Homo sapiens: one gene and its partners. The protein of the gene in region 3 interacts with the protein of the main gene of each other region in a pairwise test. Each region holds a gene or a part of one and is shown on either strand. Other genes may lie near its edges.

What was found.
Region 1: the proteins of PAK5 (region 3) and EXOSC1 interact in binary tests that used the Homo sapiens proteins (3 or more experiments, as listed by UniProt).
Region 2: the proteins of PAK5 (region 3) and TSGA10 interact in binary tests that used the Homo sapiens proteins (3 or more experiments, as listed by UniProt).
Region 4: the proteins of PAK5 (region 3) and CSNK1D interact in binary tests that used the Homo sapiens proteins (3 or more experiments, as listed by UniProt).
Region 5: the proteins of PAK5 (region 3) and SORBS3 interact in binary tests that used the Homo sapiens proteins (3 or more experiments, as listed by UniProt).
Region 6: the proteins of PAK5 (region 3) and CCNG1 interact in binary tests that used the Homo sapiens proteins (3 or more experiments, as listed by UniProt).
Region 7: the proteins of PAK5 (region 3) and WFS1 interact in binary tests that used the Homo sapiens proteins (3 or more experiments, as listed by UniProt).

The regions. Positions count from the first base shown.
Region 1 is NC_000010.11:97,436,007-97,439,506, forward strand, and holds part of EXOSC1 (exosome complex component CSL4), read right to left. Parts: intron 2,698-3,500; coding exon 2,664-2,697; coding exon of another isoform or gene 2,657-2,663; intron 1,745-2,656; coding exon 1,694-1,744; intron 1,270-1,693; coding exon 1,185-1,269; intron 546-1,184; coding exon 439-545; 3' UTR 1-438. UniProt on the Homo sapiens protein: Non-catalytic component of the RNA exosome complex which has 3'->5' exoribonuclease activity and participates in a multitude of cellular RNA processing and degradation events.
Region 2 is NC_000002.12:99,067,943-99,071,442, forward strand, and holds part of TSGA10 (testis-specific gene 10 protein), read right to left. Parts: intron 1,057-3,500; coding exon 946-1,056; intron 1-945. UniProt on the Homo sapiens protein: Plays a role in spermatogenesis. When overexpressed, prevents nuclear localization of HIF1A.
Region 3 is NC_000020.11:9,566,577-9,570,076, forward strand, and holds part of PAK5 (serine/threonine-protein kinase PAK 5), read right to left. Parts: intron 1-3,500.
Region 4 is NC_000017.11:82,246,201-82,249,700, forward strand, and holds part of CSNK1D (casein kinase I isoform delta), read right to left. Parts: exon of another isoform or gene 3,498-3,500; intron 3,403-3,497; coding exon 3,231-3,402; intron 2,815-3,230; coding exon 2,675-2,814; coding exon of another isoform or gene 2,519-2,674; exon of another isoform or gene 272-2,518; intron 266-271; coding exon of another isoform or gene 164-265; exon of another isoform or gene 1-163. UniProt on the Homo sapiens protein: Essential serine/threonine-protein kinase that regulates diverse cellular growth and survival processes including Wnt signaling, DNA repair and circadian rhythms. It can phosphorylate a large number of proteins.
Region 5 is NC_000008.11:22,568,927-22,572,426, forward strand, and holds part of SORBS3 (vinexin), read left to right. Parts: intron 1-221; coding exon 222-347; intron 348-1,983; coding exon 1,984-2,295; intron 2,296-2,791; coding exon 2,792-2,895; intron 2,896-3,413; coding exon 3,414-3,500. UniProt on the Homo sapiens protein: Vinexin alpha isoform promotes up-regulation of actin stress fiber formation. Vinexin beta isoform plays a role in cell spreading and enhances the activation of JNK/SAPK in response to EGF stimulation by using its third SH3 domain.
Region 6 is NC_000005.10:163,443,056-163,445,516, reverse strand, and holds the end of CCNG1 (cyclin-G1), read right to left. Parts: intron 1,844-2,461; coding exon of another isoform or gene 1,777-1,843; 3' UTR 501-1,776; downstream 1-500. UniProt on the Homo sapiens protein: May play a role in growth regulation. Is associated with G2/M phase arrest in response to DNA damage. May be an intermediate by which p53 mediates its role as an inhibitor of cellular proliferation.
Region 7 is NC_000004.12:6,290,350-6,293,849, reverse strand, and holds part of WFS1 (wolframin), read right to left. Parts: intron 2,654-3,500; coding exon 2,483-2,653; intron 1,934-2,482; coding exon 1,853-1,933; intron 1-1,852. UniProt on the Homo sapiens protein: Participates in the regulation of cellular Ca(2+) homeostasis, at least partly, by modulating the filling state of the endoplasmic reticulum Ca(2+) store.

The DNA of each region.
Region 1 (3,500 bases), on a different chromosome or scaffold from region 3:
ACCTAAATGAAGGGGACGTATGTAAAGCACCTGACTCAGTGCCTAGCACAGTAAGTACTCAATAAGCAGAAGTACTGAAATGTCCTGACACCATTTAGATGTCTTTCTCTGCTTAAGACAACAGACTCTATAACATCCTTTTAGTAAAAAAGTTTTATCATAGCAAAAAATATGTATTTATAAGGACTGTCAGGAGGGATAGGCTATTTCCAATATCACAGTTTTGTTTGTTGGTGCCTTGAAAAGATAAGATTTATTACTCAAGAGAATGAAATCCACTGATAGGTTCACAGAAACATGTTCCATCTACAGCGTAAACTGGAAGATTTTTCTGGAAGTGGCTGTTGGCCGACGCCAGGTGTTTGAATAAAGACAGCAGCATCTTGGTGTTATACTCAGGAACAGCTTACCCCCTTCCATAGGGTAAAAAGTGGCTTCTTAGGTCTGCAAGAATTCGGGTTGTACTCGGGCTACTTTCCGGAATTCTTTAGTGTGGGTCTTAGGGCACTGCATCTCACACCAGCTGATGGGAACCATCTGGATACCTGGAAGGGAAAAGCTGGTGGTGGAGCCCAGACCCCAAAGATTTGCCTGCGACTCCTCTTTTATGCTGGGTATGAAGCTGAAGTGCCACCAAGCTTCCTACTGAACCTCAACTCATAAAGAAAAAACTTTGTTCATTCTACTGACTTATGAAGTGAGTCCCGTTTCCTTGGATTTATATAAGGAGAATCAGGCTGGGCGTGGTGGCTCACACCTGTAATCCCAGCACTTTGGGAGGCCAAGGCGGGCAGATCATTTGAGGCCAGGAGTTTGAGACCAGCCTGGCCAACATGGCGAAACCCTGTCTCTACTAAAAATACAAAAATTAGCTAGGTGTGGTGGCGTGTGTCTGTAATCCCAGCTACTTGGGTGACAAGAATTGCTTGAACCAAGGAGGTGGAGGCTGTGGTGAGTGGAGATGGCACCACTGCACTCCAGCCTCCTCGACAAAGTGAGACCCTGTCTCAAACAACCACCACCACCAGCACCAAGCAAAAAAGAAAAAAATAATCATTCTAATCTCAGAGGGAAATATCTATAGCCATACTGCTTCCCAGATAAGGGAAACCAGGAAAAACAATGGATTTATCCCAAACCATAGATCCAGGGAAAGTAAGGATGTGGAAACAAGGCCATCTCACCTGACTCACTGTGGGCTACCACCACTCCCAGCTCGTTCTCGGCGGTGGTTAGCAGGTAGTTGGACTGTGCATCACCTAAGGAGATCTAGTCACATAACACCGGTGAAGGAAAATGAGGAGTTAGAAGTCTTCCCCCACCTTAGCCACCTGAGTTGTTTTTCTACCTTTTTTTTTTTCTGAGATGGAGTCTTGCTCCGTTAACCAGGCTGGAGTGCGGTGGCGTGATATCAGTTCACAACCTCTGCCTCACAGGTTCAAGCGGTTCTCCTGCCTCAGCTTCCCGAATAGCTGGGATTACAGGCATGTGCCACCACGCCCAGCTAATTTTTGTATTTTTAGTAGAGACAGGGTTTCACCATGTTGTCCAGGCTGGTCTCGAACTCCTGACCTCAGGTGATCCACCCGCCCTGGCCTCCGAAAGTGCTGGGATTACAGGCATGAGCCACCACACCCGGCCTCCTTCTCTTCTTTTGACAAAGGACCAGAAGTCTGCTGGGAATAAAGGATACCACTTTGGCCAAGACAATGTCACCTGGGCGGAAACTCTTATAAATTTCAACCTGTAAAGAAAGAACAGGAATGTTAAGTGAAAGCTCTAGACTGGGTCTATATGAAACTGTGAACGCTTCTGGTAAAGCCAATCTACTTTCTAATCCTGGAGGGTAGAAATCATCATTACTCATGTCAAGTCAAGAACTTTTAATTGCTTCTACAGTATTATCATACAAATGAAAATTTTTTTTTTTTGAGATGGAGTCTCGCTCTGTCGCCCACACTGGAGTGCAGTGGTGCGATCTCGGCTCACTGCAACCTCTGCCTCCCGGGTTCAAGCGATTCTCCTGCCTCAGCCTCCTGAGTAGCTGGGATTATAGGTGCATGGCACGACACAGGCTAGTTTTTATATTTTTAGTAGAGACGGGGTTTCACCATGTTGGTCAGGCTGGTCTTGAACTCCTGACCTTGTGATCCGCCCACCTTGGCCTCCCAAAGAGCTGGGATTACAGGTGTGATCCACTGCACCCGGCCCTTTTTTCTTTTTTTTTAAGAGGTGGGATCCCACTGTGTCACCCAGGCTGGAGTGCAGTGATGCAATGGTAGCTCACTGCAGCCTTGGACTGCTGGACCAAGGGATCCTCCTGCCTCAGCCTCCCAAGTAGCTAGGACTACAGGTGCGTGCCACCACTTAACCTCAAACTCCTGGGCTCAAGCAATCCTCCAGCCACATCCTCTCAAGCAGCTGGGACTACAGGCATGAGCTACCATGCCTGGCCAATTTTTGAATTTTTAAAATTTTTGTAGAGACAGGGTCTCGCTATGTTGCCAGGGCTGGTCTTGAAGTCCTGGACTCAAGTGATCCTCCCGCCTCAGCCTCCCAAAGTACTGGGATTACGGGTGTGTGTGACCATGCCTGGCCTGAGATAATACTTTTAAGGGATTGAGATACGTAAAGCCATTAAAAAAAAAGAACCAACCAACAACCTTGTCTTTTTCAGTTGCTCGGACATCTTCCTTGCTATAAAAAAAGAATTAACAGAAAGATTAATTACCTGTGAGAAAGAATTTTTTTTTTTTTTTTTTTTGAGACAGAGTCTCCCTCTGTCACCCAGGCTGGAGTACAGTGGCGCAATTTTGCTCACTGCAACCTCCGCCTCCTGGGTTCAAGCAATTCTCGTGCCTCAGCCTCTCAAGCAGCTGGAATTACAGGCACGTCCGCCATGCCCAGCTAGTTTTTTGTATTTTTAGTAGAGATGGGGTTTCACCATGTTGGCCAGGCTGGTCTTGAACTCCTGACCTCAGGTGATCCACCCGCCTCAGCTTCCCAAAGTGCTGGGATTACAGGCATGAGTCACCTTGCCCAGCCTGTGAGAAAGAATTATTCTGTAGATTCCTAGTAAATAAAGAGCTACAAGAACAGACAGAACAAGTTGTAAATGGGACACAGCTGCTACCCAGAGGAGCAGGGTGGAGAAGCATCCTCAGACCACATGGAGAGGCAGTATCAATACCTCTGATTAGATAAAGGCAGATCGGATTTGGCAAGAAAGGATAAGGAATTTCGTTGCCTCAGGGCTTGAACAGAAGCACTATAGCAAGGGCCCCCAACTTCTGGTGGCCTGTGAGGAACCGGGCTGCATAGAAGGAAGTGAGTGGCAGGCAAGCTTCATCTGTATTTACAGCTGCTTCCCAATCGCATACATTACTGCCTGAGCTCCGCCTCCTGTCAGATCGAAGTGGGCATTAGATTCTCATAGAAGTATGAACCCTATTGTGAACTGCACATATGAGGGAGCTAGGCTGCCCACTCCTTATGAGAAT
Region 2 (3,500 bases), on a different chromosome or scaffold from region 3:
TCTCACTTACTTGGGTGTTCTTCCCGATTACAGATGGGAAGAATCAGAGAGGCTGAGTAGCCTGCATAAATAAAAAGCCTTTTGTTCATTTATGGTATTACATTGCTGGAACCTTAAAATCAGGAAGTGTAGGAAACCACGTGCTTTTCCTACACAGGCTGCTTGCTGCCTGAAAGCAAGGATTGCAATTTAGAAATCCTTAGAATCTCTTCTGTCTCAAAGCCCTTAACAGTACTATGCATACCATAAATAAATGTTCAAGATATGTTTGTGGACTGACATGAAATGATAAAATAGTATAGGTGGATTGATTATTATAATAGGTATAGTGTTACCTACATACCACTCAAACCATTAATGGGAACATCCTCCCTCAATTTTAGATAATATTTTACCTAATAGACATATCTAAAATCCTCAGTAAAGCTGCCTGTTTATTCCTGAGTTGCCACACATGCACCACACTTATTGGAGTCATCTGATGTCATGTACATGTGCCTGGTCAAATGATTGCTAACAGAGAAGTGTGAGGAGAACCATCTGCCTTGTGGTCCTAAAAAAAATAGATGGTCCCATAACAGGGTAACCAATTCTGATCTGCTACATAATCAGGTGGAACCTCTTTTGTCAGAGGTTTATAACTGGAAACCCCACCACTTTCAATTAATTATAAGCGAGGTCAAATTGATTTTAGCCCTTTGTCCATCATCCAGTTAGGAAGATTCTGCTTGTCTAGAGTGGCAGAGTTGCAAAACAAAAGGGGCATATTCTCCAGGCATCTTTCTGAACATTCTAAATATGTAGTTAACCCACCATTGTCAAAACTAAAATATACTATGTATTAAAGAAAGCTTTGATTCACCTGTCGTTCTGAGTATACCAACTTCTAAATTAACTCTAGTGAAAACTAAGTATCATGAGCAAAAAGAAAAAAAAAATACATACTTCAGACTTTAATATATTCTTCAGCTTGTTAACCTCCAAATTAGTATCTTGAACCTTCTGTTTTATGTCATTAAGTTCATTATGAGTGTCATTCAATTTTTTGGACAGTGCCTACGAAAAAAAGATAGGTATATTTGACTATGAAAAATAAAAAATTTCTATATCTCAAAAATACCATAAACAAATTTTTAAACACTTGGAACAAATAAAATTAACATACCTAATATATAAACTCATATAAAAAAAGAAAACACATAAGCCCAATAGCAAGTGGGCAAATGACCCAAATAAGCAATTCAAAAAAGGAAGCATAAGTAGGTAAGACCTGAAAAAAACTCTACTAGCAACTGAAGATATGCTAATTAAAACAACACATTACTATTCTGCTTATCAAATTAATAAAGATTTAAAGCTATTCAGCTATGGTAAAGAATGGGCATTTCCATGTACTACTGGAGTAAATGTAGATTTGCAGAAAGCAAATCTGTGATCAGGAATCTGGTGATGTATCAAGAGACAATTTTTAAATGCTCATAAAAACAAGAAAGACAAAAATGTTGATTATTTTTGAAGGTGGGAAATGGCACATGGGGATTCATTATATTTGAAAATGTCTATTTACATTTTTTTAATTTAAAAAAGAAACCTCAGCTGGGTGTTTTTCCTGTAATCCTGGCACTTTGGGAGGATCACTTGAGCCTAAGAGTTTGAGACCAGCCTGAACAACATAGTGGGAACCCAACTCTACAATAAATAAATAAATAAATAAATAAATAATAATTAAAAAGAAACCTGATAATCTGTGATTCACTCTGAAATGAAATCTAATAAAATTTAATGAGATGCTGTCATTAAGGCATTTGTTACAGTGACAATATTTATTCACATTAAGTGAATCATGCAGTAAATAATAGTATATCTACATAGTGGCATAACCACATAATGGAATATTACATACCTGTGAGAAATGTTTGGAATGATTTTTAATAATACAGGGAAATATTTGCCTATGTTAAGTGAAAAAAAAATCGTGCTAAAACACAAAAATACCTCATTATCCCAATTTGTTAAAAATTGTGGTATCAAGGATAAATTTTTTTTAAGTTTCCACTTTCTCGTCTTCTGCAATACTGGTTCTTAACCTGTGGTCCACAGAGAGAGACCTCTCTTCTACCTTGGGCCTATGACCATAACGAAGAAAAAACTACTTTTGAGCATATGTAAATTGTTATGACAACAGTTTTCTTCTGATTATAAAAAATGTTTACAAAGTTTGAACAAGGCAGGAAAATGCTTACAATATTATAGTAAGCTAATAATAGCTATAAAATATTTATTGAGTGATATACTGGACAGTACAGTAAGTGCTTTCCAGGTATAGTCTCACTTATTAACCATTTTTACAGATGCTACAGAGACTCAGAGAAGTTGGTTTATATGATCACACACGCAGAGAGCAAGATTCAACCCATGTGAATCTTACTCGACTCTACTGCCTCTTCATGTAGAAAAAAGCATGATCTAAAGTGATAGGTGATTTTATCCCACTACATTAGAAAATGTGTATAAAAATAGTGTTAAAATTTTTAAGTGCACTGTATAGCAATTAAAAAAATATGTCAAATATAACAGTAACTGAGTATCAAAAACATGGGGGCTTTTCTAAACTCTTAACTTTTTGTTTAGAAAAAAGACTTTCTATAATAAGCTTCTATTTCTAAACCAATCAAAAAAATAGAAACTAAATTTCTAGGTTTTCATAAATAAGATATATCCACCTTTAGCCCATATGCTCTAGCTGTAAAGAGTACACAAAGGCAAACCTTACAAATTCCCATGTTTTGGTTTTTATTGCTATTCATTAATTTTTTAAATAAACTTTTAGAATAGTTTTAGATTTACAGAAAAGTTGTGAAGACATTATAAAGGGCACCTCTATTGTTAACATTTTACATTAGTATGGTGCATATGTCACAATTAATAAGCCAATATTGACACATTATTATCTGAAGTCCATACTTTATTCAGATTTCTTTCCTTTTTTACATAATGTCCTTTTTCTATTCCAGGATCCCATTATTCATTTACTTTTAAACAAAATACTTTAACATCTCAGATAATTTTTTATGATTAACAAAGTATTACAGCTTTATAGCTGTTTAAGTAAATTAATAATCTTCAACAGTTAAAGAACACAGACTTTCAGGATGCAAACTAAACACACTGAAAGTGATACAAAGTGGGGAAAACCATTTGGTCTTAAAAATTTTGAGAAGGGAAGAAATTTTCCAAATAGGATTTTTAAATGTTCACGTTAAAATAAATGTTATTGGAAATGAGAACTGCAGATTAGACTTAAATATATTGCCTTAGGGAGAAAGAGTAATTATAAGAGGAACTTTCCTAAAAAGAATCACAGTGCTAATGAGAACCAAAAAACAAGGCACAGTCCATACATTCATACTTAAAACAGAATAATATGTAGTCCATTTTTTTAAAAAAAAAACACCTATTCTTTTCTTTAAGGTTTCTCAAGGTTTTTATTCTCATTTTTT
Region 3 (3,500 bases):
AGGTTACTTCACGTGTGTCATATCTAAGGTGTACTTGCTTGTTAAGCCCTATTTTCTTGTTCAGTAATGAAAAACCCCATCCCTCATTAAAGGACATTAGTTTTCAGCTAGCATTTTTGGGAGACATTTCAGGGGTAGGAGGCCTTTTCCCATGCTTCTGAATTCACATACTAGAGGGTGGTATGGACATATATGTATAACACAGGTATAACACAGCAGATGTAGGTACAGGGGAAAATACGTCTCCCTGTGCTAAGTGGTGTGAACCACAGGGTGAACATGTGCAATGTTCTCACCAAATAAGTACAAATATAATTGAGAGTGATCAGACTTTGCAGGGGTATGTGTGAAATGAAAATGATGCTAGACCCGAAAGAGATCCCAGCAAAGAACATCCACTCTGACTTGGAAGAGTGGGATGAGGGGATTTATTGGAGGAGAATGGGGAAGCCAGTGAGGGGATTACTGGTATATGATACAATATGTAGGTCCAGCAGTCACTTCCTGGAAAGAATCAGGAAGGAGCTCTGGCCACTCCTGGAATTGCTGAGGCCAGGATGGTAAAGATACCACATCTTGTCATGTGGTATGCTCCTAGCCCAGGGCAGAAAGTGCTAATCCATCAATGCACTCTGTTTTGGAAGATCTCGATGACAACACAGTGCTGGATACATAGAAGGTACTCAGAAAAGATCTGTTGATTGGACTTGAGGCTCTTTCTTAATGCAGTGCCCCAGAAAGTCTCTATCACTCTACTGGGTGTAAATGGAATGGCATTAACTTATCCCACTCCCCTACCATCCACCCCAAGGACCTAGATCTATTCTAATATAGTAGCTACAAGCTACACGTGCCTATTTAAAATAAACAAAAATAGATTAAAAATTAAAAATTCAGTTTCTCAATCACACTAGTCACATTTTAAGAACTCAGTAGTTACCACATCACACAGTACACATATAAAACATTTTCCTCATTGCAGAAAGGGCTATTGGATGGCACTATTCTAGATGAATTGATTGTTCCCATGCAGCACATTCATTCATTTATTTCAAAAATTAATATTTGAGCAACTATGATGTGCTATGCACTGTTTTAGGTGTGAGGGGGAGGGTCCACCAACAGTCAAAATGAATGATATCTCTGCCCTCCTGGGGTTTATGCTCCAGAGAAGGAAATAGATAATAATAAAGAAAACCAGTAAATATACAGTGTGTGTTTCAGTAGTAATGAATAATATTAAGAAAAATAAAGCAGAGTGAGGGGGTTGAAAGTAATGAGATGCCATCTTGGATAGGGTAGTCACAGAAGGACTCTCTGAGGGGGTTCCGTTGGAGCAGAAGCCTGGCTGAGTGAGGGAAAAAGCAAGATCCCTTTCCTAGGAGGGGTGGTTTGGGCAGTGGGAGTGGCACATGCAGGATTCTGAGGCAGATCCAGGCTTAGTTTGTGAGGAAGAGCAGACGCTCAGCTATAGTGGAGTGTGTCCACTAAGGAAGATGGGCCGAGAAGCTGCCGGGGGACAGATCATGAAGACCTTGGCAAAGACGTTGGCTTTTGCTCCGAGTGAGGTGGGAAGCACTGGGGGTTGCTAAGCAGACAGGAATGACACAGTCTGACTCTCTGGCTGCTGGAGGAGAGACTTTGGTGGCAAGAGTGGAAACAGGGATGCCAGCAGCTTATCACAGTTAATGTGGGCTGAGATTAGGGTGGTTATTGTAGATGGGGTGAGAAATGGTGAAATCTAGGGCAGGATTTGAAGATGGAGCTGACAGGATTTGCTGATGGATTGGGTGAGATCTTGAAAGACAGGAATCAAAGATGGCTATCAGGATTTTGGCCTAAGCAACAGGCCATTTAATGAGATGAGGAATCCAGGGGCAGGAACAGGGCTTGTGGGGTGTGATAATCAGCTTCCAAATTGCTCTCAATGACCTGTGCCTCCTGACATTCATATTCCTATGTAGTCCCCTTCTACACTGTATTGGGATCAATCTGTGTGATCAAAGAAAAAGGCAGAGATGATGGCAAGTTCCTTTGCTTTCTTACATCATTTATTTTGGCTTTCACCAGCTGCCATGTCATGAGGACACTCAAGAATCCTTTGGAAGGGTTGGGTGCAGTGGCTCATGCCTGTAATGCCAGAGCTTTGGGAGGCTAAAGCTGAAGGATCACTTGAGCCCAGGAGCTCAAGGCTGCAGTGAGCTATGATTGCACCACTGCACTCCAGCCTGGATGACAGAGTGAAACCTTGTCTCAGAAATAATAAAAATAATAATAATAATAAAATAGAGAGGTCCATGCAGCAAGAAACTGAGGACTCCTGCTAAGAGCTAGCTAGAAATTGAGGCCTTCTGGCAAACAGCCATGTGAGCCATTCTGGAGGTGGATCCTCCAGGTCCAGTTGATCCTTCAGATGACTGTGTTCCTGTTTGAAACCTTGACTGCAACCTCATGAGAGATTCCAAGACAGAACCAATCAATCAGCTAAGCCCTCTCAATTTGTGACCTACAGAAACTGTGAAATAGTAAATGTTTGTTATTTAAAGTTTAGGGGAAATTAGTTGAACAGCACTATTTTTTGCTTCATGAGGCAGTTTGTTTTAAGCCATGAAGTTTTGGGATAATTTGTTATGCAGCAATATTGATAGCTAATACATGGTGGAAAATTAAGAGTTCTTTTAGCCATGTAAAGTTTGGGAGAGTGATTAGACATCCATGTGGAGGTGTCACTTAGGAGACTTAGGCATGCCCCAAGTCCAGGGAAGAGTTAAAGCTAAAGACATGAATCTGAGAGTCATCGGTGCTTAGTTCATATTAAAAGCCATGATACTGAATGTGTAAGAGATGGTCTGAGGACCCCAACGTCTAGATACCAGAAAGAGCAGAGGGATCTTGCAAAAGGGAGCAGAGAAGGAGTGACAAGTGCTGTAGAAAGGAAACTAAGGAAGCAAGGTGTCCTGGAGCCAAGGGAGGAAAGTATTTCAAGAAGGAAGGGCTAATGAATCCTGTCAAATGCCACTGAGAAGTGGGATGGGGCATGTTGCTCATTGGATCTGGTGACATGGTAGAGGCAAGCAGGTGTTTCAAGCTCCTGCCCCACCACGATGCATAAGAAGGTAGTCATTCTATCACATCATGGAGCAATAACTGCACACAGTGGGCTCTTTAAAATTGCTACCATAGCACCATTCTCAGTCCCCCAACACTGCCCATTGGTTCTACAATGACAGTGCCTGGCCTGCTGAACATTCAGCAATGCAGCCCTTCCAGCTTCAAAAACACTACACTTTACTAGGTGAATTCACCACTCAGACAGCCTTGGCATCAACCAGCAGGAACCAGGGTAGCTGCTAAGCTGCCCTCCTGCCCTGGTTGCAGAGAGAACACATGCTTTTGACGGGCATAGGAATGAATTCTGACTGATAATTTTAGTCAAGTCAACCTCTCTGAGTCTTAGTTTCCTTCTGACTCTGATAATTTTAGTCAAATCAGCCTCTGTG
Region 4 (3,500 bases), on a different chromosome or scaffold from region 3:
TCAGGACGGGCCTCTGGATGAGAGTGGTGCCCACTCCTCTTCTGGAATCACTTGCTCTTAAGGCCAACAATGGCATGGGACAGGCCCTCCTGAGTCTTCTCAAGCACTAAGAAAACCTGATCCCAGCAGGATGGCAGGTGCTGGGCAGCCCCACAACTGGGTCTCAGGGCACAGCCTGAAGGCAGGGGAGACGCACATCCTCGCCGGTACGACGACAGGGCTCAGGCCTAGTCCTGGGCAGGAGTTGATCAAAGCGAGTCATCGACTGTTGGAATGACAAGGCCTTCTTCTCACCAAGTAAAAACCCCAAACAGACTCAGCAACTAGATGGCCTTTAGGGCCCAGGCTACTGTAGCCAAAGAGCCCTGGCCGAACACCAACAGCCCGAAAAGAGAGGGGGCGAAGAGGGAACAGACCCAGGCGGAGTCCGGGCTGGGGCGGGGCCCTACAACTATGGGGGCCTCTGTGACCTACAGGCAGGCTGCCACGTGGTCTTCCACCCATCCACACCCAGCCACGGCCAGCAAGCCCTGGGAGACCTTCCTGCTGCCTCCTCCCATCTCCACAGGGCGCAAGGTCTCCTGAGAGGAGCAGAAAGAACAGGGAAGAGCGACGGCCCGAGGAGGAAGACTGGCCGGGGATGAGTCACTGCCCACGGTGACTGTGTCTCCAGCTCACCCGAGCAAACAGGTGAGGCGCTCAGAGCAATTGAGCCTCCTGTATTCCCCCTTGGGATTCAAAACGGGAGCTGCTGCTCACAGCCACCACGTGTGCTGGTGCTGGCAGAGTCTGGCAGGAAGGACACACGGCCAAAGCCTTCCTGTGAGATGGTGACAAAGGAGGGGGCCCGCCCTGGAGGTGGGGAGCCCTCAACATGCCTCTCAGGAAGGCCCCCCAGGGTGTCCAGGAGCAGAGGCCAAGAGGCTTCTTTTGGAGAGAACACACCCCCAAACCAGCTCTCTCTGGAGACTCCTCCCTGCTGTTAGAGCCCACGTTGTATTTCCTCATATGGAAAACGAGGGCCTAAGAGCCAGCTGCGGGTTCCTGCCACAGCTCACCATGGAAGGAGACACTGCTCACGGCCACCTTGGGGGCTGGTGGCTACAACAGCCACACCCAGGTGCCGCCAAGGCCGTGTACCGAGAAAAGGCAGCTGGACTCAGGGCTGTGGCTACTCAGCACGCTCAGGACACCTTCACTGCCCACAAAGATCCCAAACCACTGGACACTTTACTTTCTTTAAAAGAAACAAAAAGCACTCAGGCCCCTTCCCTAGTCTTTGTCAGCCAAGCGCTGGGGCGAGGCTGTCCAAGTCCGGTCAGCACCCAGCATGGGGAGCACTCTGGGCTCCTGTACCATGGTTCAGGGGCTACAGAGCCAGCCGCACATCAAGACACGAGGGCACGGGCAGACCCTCCCGGGAACTGCTCACAGGAACTGATGCGCAAGTGCCAGGCTCGTGGAAAGAAGCCAGTTAAACCCTTTCTGTGCTGTGTCTGGAGGTGACAGCAGGGTTGTGTGCACGTAAGGGACCCATTCTCGTGACGCAGCCCAGACCCCTCGAGCCCAATTCATATAACCACAAAGTCAAAATAACCACGAAGCCAAAATCCCTGCATCTTTGGTCTCTTTGGGAAGAAGTTATACAAAAAGGTCTGTTTCTAGTGAAATTATTAGTGAATTAGAAACGTGCAGTAAAACCCCAATCATTAAAAGACGGCAAGTGGTCAAGAGTGCTCCCCACTCCGGCATGTTCCTGGCTAGCCAGCTACACCCAGCCCCGCTCACGGCAGCAGGCCTGGCTCCATCCTGTGATCCCAACAAACACCTCCCCACAAGCCCAGAGCCAGGCTCCAGGGCATTTCTGAACTGAGTTCCTGCTCATCCGGAAGACCCGTGGGGGATCTGGGCACCCCCCAGGATGCCTGCTGGTGAAACAGCCCTGCCCCACTAACCCTGCCCCTGTTGGCGAACAACCCAGAAAACTATTTGAAGAAATATAATGGATCCATATGGAGAAAGCTGTTCTAGTTCAAAGAGCACGTTAGCAAACGCAAAAGACAACAAAAGCCAGAGCGAGGAGAGGAGAGACCGCTGCAGGATGCTGAAGAGGCGGTGGCCGTGGCTAGGCCTGGGCTGCGCAACAGGGTACTTCTCGTCCAAGGGAAGACAGGTGAGGCCGTCAAAAGAAGGAAAGCCTCGTTGCAGGGCATGCCACCAGGGAGGGTCTCACAAGAAGCCCGTGGAGGTCCCTACGGGCCTCCATCCCTGGCCAGTGGCAAGAATGAGGAAGAATGAGGAAGGCTCCCTCGGGCTGGGGGCACCCACAATGGGGCGCAAGCAGGCGAGCGGTGTCAGCTGCCTGGGGACGGCTGCGGGCAGCGGGGCACTCAAACAGCAGGAGAAAGCCCCCACGGTTTGCTGGCCTCAGGGACCTGAGACCTGAGACTGGCCACCTGCAACCAGGAGACAAGCCCCATGACGGCCCAGCATGTCTCCCAGGCCCTCCCGAGAAGCCTCATCTGCAACCAAGACGCCACACCCTGGCGAGATTAAAAACTCTCAAAAATGGGGGGAAGAAAGGAAAGAAGAAGCCCTGGAGAAACCACAGCCCGCTCTTGACTCGGACGGGGTAGCCCGAGGCCCAGCGCCCGCCCGGGAGCTCTGCACCTACCTGTGAGGTGGACATGCGAGAGGTATCTTGTCGGCCTGTGAGGTCGGACGAGGAGATGTTGACGGGGGCCCCGCGGTGCAGCCGCATACTCACTTTCCGCTCTCTCTCCATGCCGGAGACGGGCCGGGGGGAGGTGTTAGCTGAGGACAGGGAGAGAAACGGAGTGGGCCGCCCCCGTCTGCTGCCTCTCACTCGGGGCTTTCTATGAGAGGCTGTGGCCAGAGAGGACCCTGGGCTGCCTGGACAGTCAGGACCTGGCTGTGGCCGATGGCCACCAACACTCAGATCCGGCCGGAGGGACACAAAGGGACATGGGAGCGAGGTCAAGGGGCTCACAGGGGAGGAACGTGAGATGCGGGAGGAATCACGCACACCAGCAGGTGCCGGCATTTCTAAAGGCGCCTGGGCAGCCTGGCTCATCCACCCTCAGGAGCGAGCATCGCCTGACACAGGGCACTTAGTGTCCACCACCAAGTACCCTGTTGTCCCCACCAACCCCAAGACACAAGAAGTCACCCCAGAGCCAGCCCCAGAGCGCTGGGAGGGGGGCACTCACCCGTGTGTGAGGTAGGGGTGAGGGGTGTGGGGGGAGCCACTTCCTGCGTCCCCCGCAGGCGGCCGGAGGCTGTGGAAGGGAGGCCGCGGGTAGCCGGGTTCCGCGAGTGTCTCAGCCGCTCCTCTCGGTCCCTGCGCTCCCGCTCGGCGTCATCGGCGGCCCGGCTGGCACCCTGAGGAGGCAGGAGGTGAGGCCGGAATGGAACCAGCTTTGGCAGAAAGCAACCCTAGGTCCTAGGCTGCCCCGGCCACGTGAGAAAATACCTACCAA
Region 5 (3,500 bases), on a different chromosome or scaffold from region 3:
GGAAAATTCTTCTTCCAGGGAGCGTTCCCAGACTCCTCCCCATCCTCCAGCACCCTTTGGCTGTGCCCACCCGTGGCTGCCCCCAGGGCTTGTGTCTGGTGTTTATATCTTTTCTCTGCCTAGGGGCGGGCCCACCTTCTCTTTGCTGTCTCACAGGAACCCCCAGCCTGTGCTATGTTGATGCCCAGGCCAAATCTTTCTCATGACCTTTCTTCATGCAGGTGCTGCCCGCAGATGAGATCCCTAAGCCCATCAAGCCCCCGACCTACCAGGTGCTGGAGTATGGAGAGGCTGTGGCCCAGTACACCTTCAAGGGGGACCTGGAGGTGGAGCTGTCCTTCCGCAAGGTGGGCCAGGCCGGAGACGGAGGGGTGGGTGGGGGCAGGTGAAGATGTAGGTAAATATGTGCACTAAAAACAGTTTTTTTTTTTTGAGACAGAGTCTCACTCTATCGCCAGGCTGTAGCGCAGTGGTGCCATCTCGGCTCACTGCAACCTCCGCCTCCCGGGTTCAAGCAATTCTCCTGCCTCAGCTTCCCGAGTAGCTGGGACTACAGGCACGCGCCACAACACCCAGCTAATTTTTGTATTTTTAGTAGAGACAGGGTTTCACGATGTTGGCCAGGATGGTCTCAGTCTCTTGACCTCATAATCCACCCGCCTCAGCCTCCTAAAGTGTTGGGATTACAGGCGTGAGCCACCGCGCCTGGCCTAAAAACACTTCTTTAAAAAAGAGTCCGATGTACCTAGCTTCACCCAGGATTTCAAAGTTTTCCCCAGTCTCTTTCATTATGCTTCCTTTAGTGTAGTGGCTTTTTTTTGCTTTTTTTTGAGACAGCATCTCACTATGTTGCCCGGGCTGACCTTGAACTCCTGGGCTCAAGCGATCCCCTGTCCCTGCCCCAGCCTCCCAAGTAATTTTGGTCCATTTTTAAAAGATCATCATAAACTTCTAGAGTTACATATATATTTTTTCAACTGCAGGTTGCAGGGGATCATACTCAGCATTTTTAAAGGTATAGACAGAAATGTTAGCATGCGTTGCGAGCAGAAAGCACTTTATCATACCGTAGGCAGTTCTGTGTATGCACATATATATGTATTCTGGGCTGTTATTAAAACATTTTTAACTGTAGATTGTGGTGAAACAAGTTTGAAAAATGCTGTTCTAGAAAGCAGGGAAGTGGTCTGCCTTTGGTTGATTTTGGGAGCAGTGATCATGCTCCCAAAATAAGCGAAAGACGGCCCATAGTGAATGCCTCCCAGAAGAGCTGGCCCCAGGGACAGAGGGGGAAGAAGGTGGCTGGATGGAGACAGATGGGGGCAGGAGAGGACAGGGGAAGGCAAGGGCTGGAGGCCACCCTCCCAGGGGGTGGTTCTACCTAATGTCAGCCAGCCTGTGGCCTTCAGGACTCCCTGCCTGTCCTGGGGAGTGTGTTTTTGACACGCTCATGACAAGGTCCCCCAGCGTGAGGCAGGAACAGGACCCAGGCAGGGCAGTAGTGGTAGCACCTGTCCAGTGTGTCTAAGGAGTGGACTGTTGATCTCGTTCACACCTCATAGTGACAGTATGGTTATTTTCACTTAACATAGGAGAAAACAAGGCTCAGAGAGACAGAGCAGGCTGCCTGAGGCCACACAGCTTGGCCTGGTGGAGCTGGGTTTGGATCTGTATTATTAGCCACGGGCTCACCTGTGATCGGAGCTCTGGGGAGGGACCTTGCTATGAACGCCGAAGGGGGATGCACACCCGTTGAGCTTCCAAGAGGCAGGACCCAGTCTCAGCCTCAGCCTTGCCTGGGCAGCCTGGGCTTGGCTCCTGGCTCCTGCTCTTACCGTGTGACTCGGGTAAACTGCTGGCCCCCTGCGATTCCGACCCCTCGTGTGTCCAAGGTGTTAGGGTTGAATGAGACAGCCCAGATAAGGCACCCGTGGGTCCATGGCACCAGGAAGGCCCCACAGACACTGACTTTTCCCCCCTCAGGGAGAGCACATCTGCCTGATCCGCAAGGTGAACGAGAACTGGTACGAGGGACGCATCACGGGCACGGGGCGCCAAGGCATATTCCCTGCCAGCTACGTGCAGGTGTCTCGTGAACCCCGGCTCCGGCTCTGTGACGACGGCCCCCAGCTCCCCACGTCTCCCCGCCTGACCGCTGCCGCCCGCTCAGCCCGTCACCCCAGCTCCCCCTCAGCCCTGCGCAGCCCAGCTGACCCCATCGACTTGGGGGGACAGACCTCCCCCCGTCGCACTGGCTTCTCCTTCCCCACCCAGGAGCCTAGACCCCAGACCCAGGTGAGGTAGCCTGCCTCCACCAGAGAGTCGACCTCCTCCTCACCCCTCATCCCCCACCCCCGTGACTTGTCCACACTTGGGACTCCTTCCCAGACAGCCCTGGGACATAGGAGTGGGGTGACAGGGCAGAAGCTAGTATGGCAGCCCCACCCTGGCCTGGGGGACCTCAACCTACCGAGCTCTAGCCGAGGGAGCTCTAGATGGAATCCCAAAGCCGGCCCAGGCTCCTGACCCTGGGTGTTCTTGGTTCATCCATGCTGGCGTCCAGAAACCCAGGCACTGACCTTACTTGGGCCTCAGTTTTCTGGCCCCTGTGAAATGAAATAGTCACAGCAGGTGTCCCTGTGCCCTGGGGGTTTGGAGGCTAAGATGAAGCCGTTTGTAAGGCGTGCTGGCAGGTGGACTGGGAACGCCCATTTTGGGCCTCCTCCCTCAGGCTTACATGTACCCATCGTCTTCCTCCCTCTGACATCCCTTTCTTCCTGTCAACTCCCAGAATCTTGGCACCCCTGGTCCAGCTCTGTCCCACTCTCGAGGTCCCAGCCATCCCCTGGACCTGGGGACCTCCTCTCCTAACACCTCTCAGATACACTGGACCCCGTGAGTACCATCTGAGGGCTCTTGATCAGACGTGGGGGGGGTCACTGGCAGGCAATGCCCCATATTCCACCCTCCCCCAAGTCCCCACCTGTGGATTTGGGAAACTTCTACCAGGTAGCCCTTGTCCTCGAAGAGCTTATGGTGATTTGGGGCAGGGAGGAGGCGCTGGTCTGTGATGTTCCCAATCCCTCCTGGCAGCTATGTGGCCTTGTGGCCTTGGTCTCCTCATTGGGTTTCTAGCCCTGAGGTCGGTGCATGTATAATTGAAGTGTGGAACTGGTGGAATGGACAGGAAGGCACCAGGTGCTCAGAGGAGGCGAGGGTTCAGTGCTTAGGGCCCAGAGGGCAGGAGGCAGGCCTGGGAAAGACTACGGTGAGCACAGGCTGAGTTGCTCTGAGGAGCTGGATCAGGGGCTAGTGAGAGCATGAAGGGACCCTGGGGCATTCACAGGAAGCGGCAACACTTGGGTTAGAGCCTCTGGGCCCATTCTCTGGTTGCCATGATACGCTTCTCGCAGGTACCGGGCGATGTACCAGTACAGGCCCCAGAACGAAGACGAGCTGGAGCTGCGCGAGGGGGACAGGGTGGATGTCATGCAGCAGTG
Region 6 (2,461 bases), on a different chromosome or scaffold from region 3:
GCGCCACTGCACTCCAGCCTGGGTGACAAGAGTGACCCTGTCTCAGAAAAAACAAAAAGTAAAGTGTCAGCTAATAGTCATACTATTAATAGGGATTTTATTGTTTCTGGTACTATGCATCTAACTTTAGTACTAAATTTAAATATACTGGGTAGAGAGAGCTTTTTATAATGTTTCAGAAAAAACAAAACAAAGTGTCAGCTAATAGTCATATTATTAATGGGGATTTTATTGTTTCTGGTACTATGCATCTAACTTTAGTACTAAATTTAAATATACTGAGTAGAGAGAGCTTTTTATAATGTTTCAGAAAAAACAAAGTAAAGTGTCATCTAATAGTCATATTATTAATAGGGATTTTATTGTTTCTGGTACTATGCATCTAACTTTAGTACTAAATTTAAATATACTGAGTAGAGATAGCTTTTTATAATGTTCTGTTAACACATTGCTAAAAGAGTTAATTAAATCAGAGGAGAAAAAAGCCACCCAGCAAAGGATTGAATTTCATTAACTTTATTGAAAGGTATATCCCTTAGTACTAAAACATAATGGTAGTTGGTTAGTTTACCTCTGCCAACTCAAAATTAACAATGATGTATTCAAAATATTGAAATTTATCAGCCTTTTGGGAAAACTAAAAAGTTACCCATAAAACATGGTTTACAAAAGTTAAGAATAAGATATACTGTGGTTCTTTGGTTTTTCATTGTGTACTGATCCATAACGTGATGTCAAATTGGATATAGCCATCATGGATAGACTCAGGCTATACATTGCACTGAGTAACTGTTTACAACACTTTAACACTGTACTTCTTACATTCACTAACTGCCATGGAGGATCCTAAACACTACTTCAGCAGCTTCATTCATAGTTATGAAGGTGTCTACTTGCTTTTCTTAAGATTTTTGTTTTGGCACAGTAAGGGCATCAGTGGAAGTATATTCTCTATTTATAAAATTGCCATCACTTCTAACTTAAAAACAGTCTGTAGTAAAAAATTCTGGAGTGTTCAATCTAGTCTGAACTTACCTTAGTGTGGGAAAGCAAGTTTTCGAAGTGATAATTTATTTTGAGTTACTAATACAATAGAAACTAGTTTTCTTGATGGGATTCAGTTTGAGGCAGTAGGTTCTGTATAAAAATTTTTATCGTAGATACAAATGTCACCTGTTTTCTAGAAAAAAATATTAAAAGATAACTTAATGAATATGCCAAACTTTATAGGTCTGTATTTTTCTTTATATAAAATGCCCTCAAATTTAAATGTAATTCCCATATAGCAATAAAGTCCACATCTCTAGATTACCTATTACTTGCATTATGGGGTGTGTTTATACTGCCTAGAATGTTAACCCTTATTATGCCTTAAAAGTACATTTGTGAAATGTTGCTTTTGACATAAACCTCATAACTTAAAATTTAAGTAGGAGTAGGATTAGAATAATGACAGTGATTGAAGCTGTGGGAAGACTGATAGTTGATAGTATTAGTGTGACTCCTCCAATAGCATTTTCAATACCACCTAAATATATTGATCCAATATCTAAAGTTAGATCAATGATAGAAATGAAGATTCACAGTTTACCTTCTCAGGCTTGTCATTAGCATTTCACATTTAGGCTTTTAGCTTTGATTTGAATGCTTCACAGATGAATTCAAATCTAAACATAATTCCACTACAGCATAATATTAGGCAGTTTTCCCAAGTCTGAGACCATCATGCTTATCTCGTGATGTTTTGAGGCTTCATAGCTTAAATCCATTGTAACATTATGGAATCCATAGAACAAGGTTGTGGAGAAAGGCTTCAGAGAAGTTTTTTGGTGCTGTAATAATCCTATTTAAATAAAGAAAACAAACAAAATCCAACTTAACAGAAGCCAGTCTGCCTAAATACTACTAAGAAAATTGAAATGTTCATATCTAATATTCATAATCACATGTAGATGTATTAAATGTTAACATTTAGTTTTGAGTAGAATAAATCATCACTGAGTTAGGAAATTTATATGGCAAGAATGTATATCACATATGCAGAAAGCAAGTTTACATTTTTTATGCATATAACTACTTTGCAGTAGTCCAGCTGCTATAGCAATGATAGGTTAGTATAGTGTTGACACACTCTGGCAGTTTCCAGATACCCAATGTAGAGACCATCTATCATATCCTACTTTTTTTCTTTTTTTTTTTTTTTTTGTGGCGGAGTCTTGCTCTGTCGCCCAGGCTGGAGTGTAGTGGCGCGATCTCAGCTCACTGCAAACTCCGCCTCCCGGGTTCCCGCCATTCTCCTGCCTCAGCCTCCCGAGTAGCTGGGACTACAGGCGCCCGCCACCGCGACTGGCTAAATTTTTTTGTATTTTTTAGCAGAGACGGGGTTTCACCATGTTGGCCAGGATGGTCTCGATCTCCTGACCTCGTGATCCGCCCGCCTTGGCCTCCCAAAGTGCTGGGA
Region 7 (3,500 bases), on a different chromosome or scaffold from region 3:
GGGTTCAGGACGGCGTCTGACACACGAGAGTGGTCACCAATGCCACCCACACATCTCCCTACCAGAGCACAGTCCCTACGGGAAGACCCTGGTCCCCACAAGGAAGGCCCCTGTCCTCATAGGGATGAATACCTTGGGCAGGATGTCCTGTCCTGAGAGACAGGACATCAGTCTAGGGACCCCAAGAAGGAGCAGCCAGTGTGGCAGCAAGGGCCCCGGGCCTGGTGGGGGAGAGGGCTCTAAGGAGAAGAGCAGTCATCTCTGCCCACGCTGCTGACAGATCAAGTCAGACAAGGACAAGAAGTGACTGAGCAAGGGGGGTCACTGATGGCCTAGACGAGCCGCTTTGGTGGAATAACATGGCAGAGGCCTGAGAGCAAAGGACGGAGGACGAGAGAAGGGGATGACAGACGCCCCTTTCTGGGAGTTCTGTTGGAAAAGCTGGCAGAGAAACAGATGATGCCTGATGGGAACGTTCTGATAGAGGGGAAACAATGGGGGTGCTGGGGCCCTGTCCCTGAGGGCCTGGCGGAGGGGACCACAGGCTGGCAGCGCTGACTCCTAACTCGCCCCCAGCAACAGCGACAGGGCCCAGCAGCAGGTGTGCCCGGCTCATCACAAACCCCTGTGGGACTGGGAAGTGAGGTTGGGGTCCAGACTCTGCCTGCAGTGCCCCCCAGGATGGAGACCCAGGCTGGGCTGCTCCTGCCCAGAGGCACCTCACTTCAGGACAGCAGGCACCATGCCACCTCGGTGGCAGGACACTGTCACAGCCTCTCTGGTCCTCGGGCTTCCTAGAGTCACAGATTTCTTCCCACTTCCATGTGAGGTGTTTCTTTGTCTCCCCCAAATGGAGCAGGAAAACAGCAGCGCAAGCACCCATGTCCGCCCACGCAGAGGCGAGGGCTCTGACCACACCCTATGGACGGTTTCCTCACGGGCCCAGTGGGAAGGTGGGATCTGTGCTCCCACCTGTACTCTGCCCTACATGCCACAGAGGCTTCTAGGATGGGCGAGGTCCTTCAGTCCCCTTGTCTGATCATCTCACTGTTCAGAAGGGGAAACTGACACCCAGAAAGAAAAATGAGACCTGCCCATGTCACAAGAAGAGTCTGTGGCAGACCTGGGTCTTGGCCCATCCCCCCATTGATACTGAGCCCCCAAGCCTCCTGCCTGTCTATCTTCTCCAGGACAGGAGCTCCCAGTGCCTCAGACTGCAGAGTCTACCCCACGTGGATGGAAGACAGTGAGGCTGGCCAGCTGCACGTGGAGGATGTGACGTCTCTTCTCAGTCTTTGACCACAAACATCCCAGAGGCACCCCCAGCTCAGTGTGCCCCAGAGACTCTATCCCCCAACCTAGGCTCTGCCCACTCTGTTCCCTGCCTACCTACAAAGGGCCTACGCTGGGGCAGAGCCCCTTCCACACCCTGCTGGGTCTCCTGGGCCTTTGCTCATGCTGTTCCCTCTGCCCGGAGCCCCTTCCCCTAATGCCCTCCTCATCCTTCCCCACTCAGGACCCCCCCGCCAGTCCCCACCCCCAGTATTTCCTTGTCCAAGAGGGACTGGCACATCATGGTTTCTGTCCTGGGTCTGCCTTCCCTCCAGTGCGTGCGCTCCAGGTGGGCAGGGTCTACTCCCAGCGTCCAGAACACTGAGCCCCAAACGGACCGCCTGAGATCCTAGCAGGGCCAGGATGGGGTCGCACAGGAAGGAGAGGTCGCCCTGCAGGCGCAGGCTGGGAGGCACGGGTGAGATAGGGCAGGCCAGGATGGAGTCGCACAGGAAGGAGAGGTCGCCCTGCAGGTGCAGGCTGGGAGGCATGGGTGAGACGGGGCAGGGGCTGCACTCACACTCGCTGCTGACCAGGCGCTCCAGCATGCGCCTCTGCTTCTGCAGGGACTTGGGCACGGGGCCTGGCTGCGCCCCTCCATCTGCAGGGGACAGGGTGGATTAACAGTCAGACAAGTTGACTATCTCCTCGTGCCCTGCAGCCCACCAGAAACTGGCGCACTGTTCCTAGGGCACGCCAGTTCCAGGGGCATCCTACGTTCTGGGGATCATAGGGCCCCCAGGGCAGGCAGAGCAGGGGCCACACCTCTGTACCTCCAGTAGCTGGGGTGGACTCAGCACCACGTAGCGTGCTCCCACTTGGTGATGGACACAGTCCGTCCCATTGGTAGACGTGGTCACAGAGCACTGGGCAGAATACCCTCTGGTTTATTCAATGAGTGAGCACTTGAGCCAGGGCAGATGCTGTCAAAATGCCACCCACACACCTCACCACTAGGGCACGGTCTCTACAGGAAGGTTCTGGTCCCCTGGTCCCCACAAGGAAGGGCCCTGTCCTCACAGGGAAGGTCCCGGCTCCTGTGGGAAGACCCAGCCCCTGAGGGAAGGTCCCAGCCCCTATGGGAAGGTCCTGGCTCCTGTGGGAAGGCTGGCGCCCAGGGAAGGCTGGTGCCCAGGGTGAATCCTCGCACCGTGCTCGTTGACCTGGCCGACATTCTCCAGCAGCTCCGCCACGGCCACCTGCTTCTTCTTCTTGGGGTTGAGCTTCCAGTACATGACCAGGGCTGCCTTGCGCACGGCCCTCTCCAGGTCGGTCTCGGAGGAGAGCTGCCTCACCTCCCGTTCGTTCTCGGACGTGATGCCTGAGGGATAGGATGTGGTCAAAGGCCTTGTGTGCCCTGCCTAGGCTTTCGGTGCCACTCTGACCCTGCCAACTCTGCCTGGAAGGCTTTCGAGCGAGACTCATAGAAGGTGTCAGGACTTGGTTACCAGGGAAGGATGCATGGACATCTGACTCAAGAGGACATCGCGCCACGCCCACTCTCCAGCTGGGAGGCCAGACTGGTCTCCCACCAGACGCCCCCAAGTGCCCCCTACATGCTGGCGGGAAGAAGGCAGCCTCTTCCTGTTCCTCCCCTCTCTCAGAGGTGCAGACCCGGAGGCACAGGCCTGTGTTCTGGCTCACTCAAGGTCACACAGTCAGAAAGAGGCAGAGCTGTCTTGAACCCAGGGTGGACTCACTGCAGTCACCAGCCTGGGTGCACTGGCAGGGCCACCCCTGTGTCTACAGAGCTTTCCTCTGTCTCACACACAGCCCAGCCCTTTCTAAGGAAGGCTTGGACAGCGGGGAGAGGGAGAGCAGGTTTTACCGCTGGTCAGCAGCTGCCTTCCTCCCTTTACCCCCAACGGCCTGGGACACTGGCACAACCAAGCAGAGGGCAGGAGGACTGGCACGGGGGTCTGGATGTTTTTCTCCTTTTGAACATTTCCAAAATTTTCCACATGAGCATGTATTTCTTTTCAAATCAGAAAGCACAACTGCACATCAGAAGGTGTGTGCAGCTGGGGGAACACGGGGCCAACCGGCCTCCTCCCTTGCACGCTCTGCCCCAGCAGCCTCTGGGCTATCCCTGGCACCCAACAATGAGCCGTGTGGGCCGCCTGAGCCCCCTCCAGGTCATTCCAACTGCTCTGGAATCAGCAGGCTGG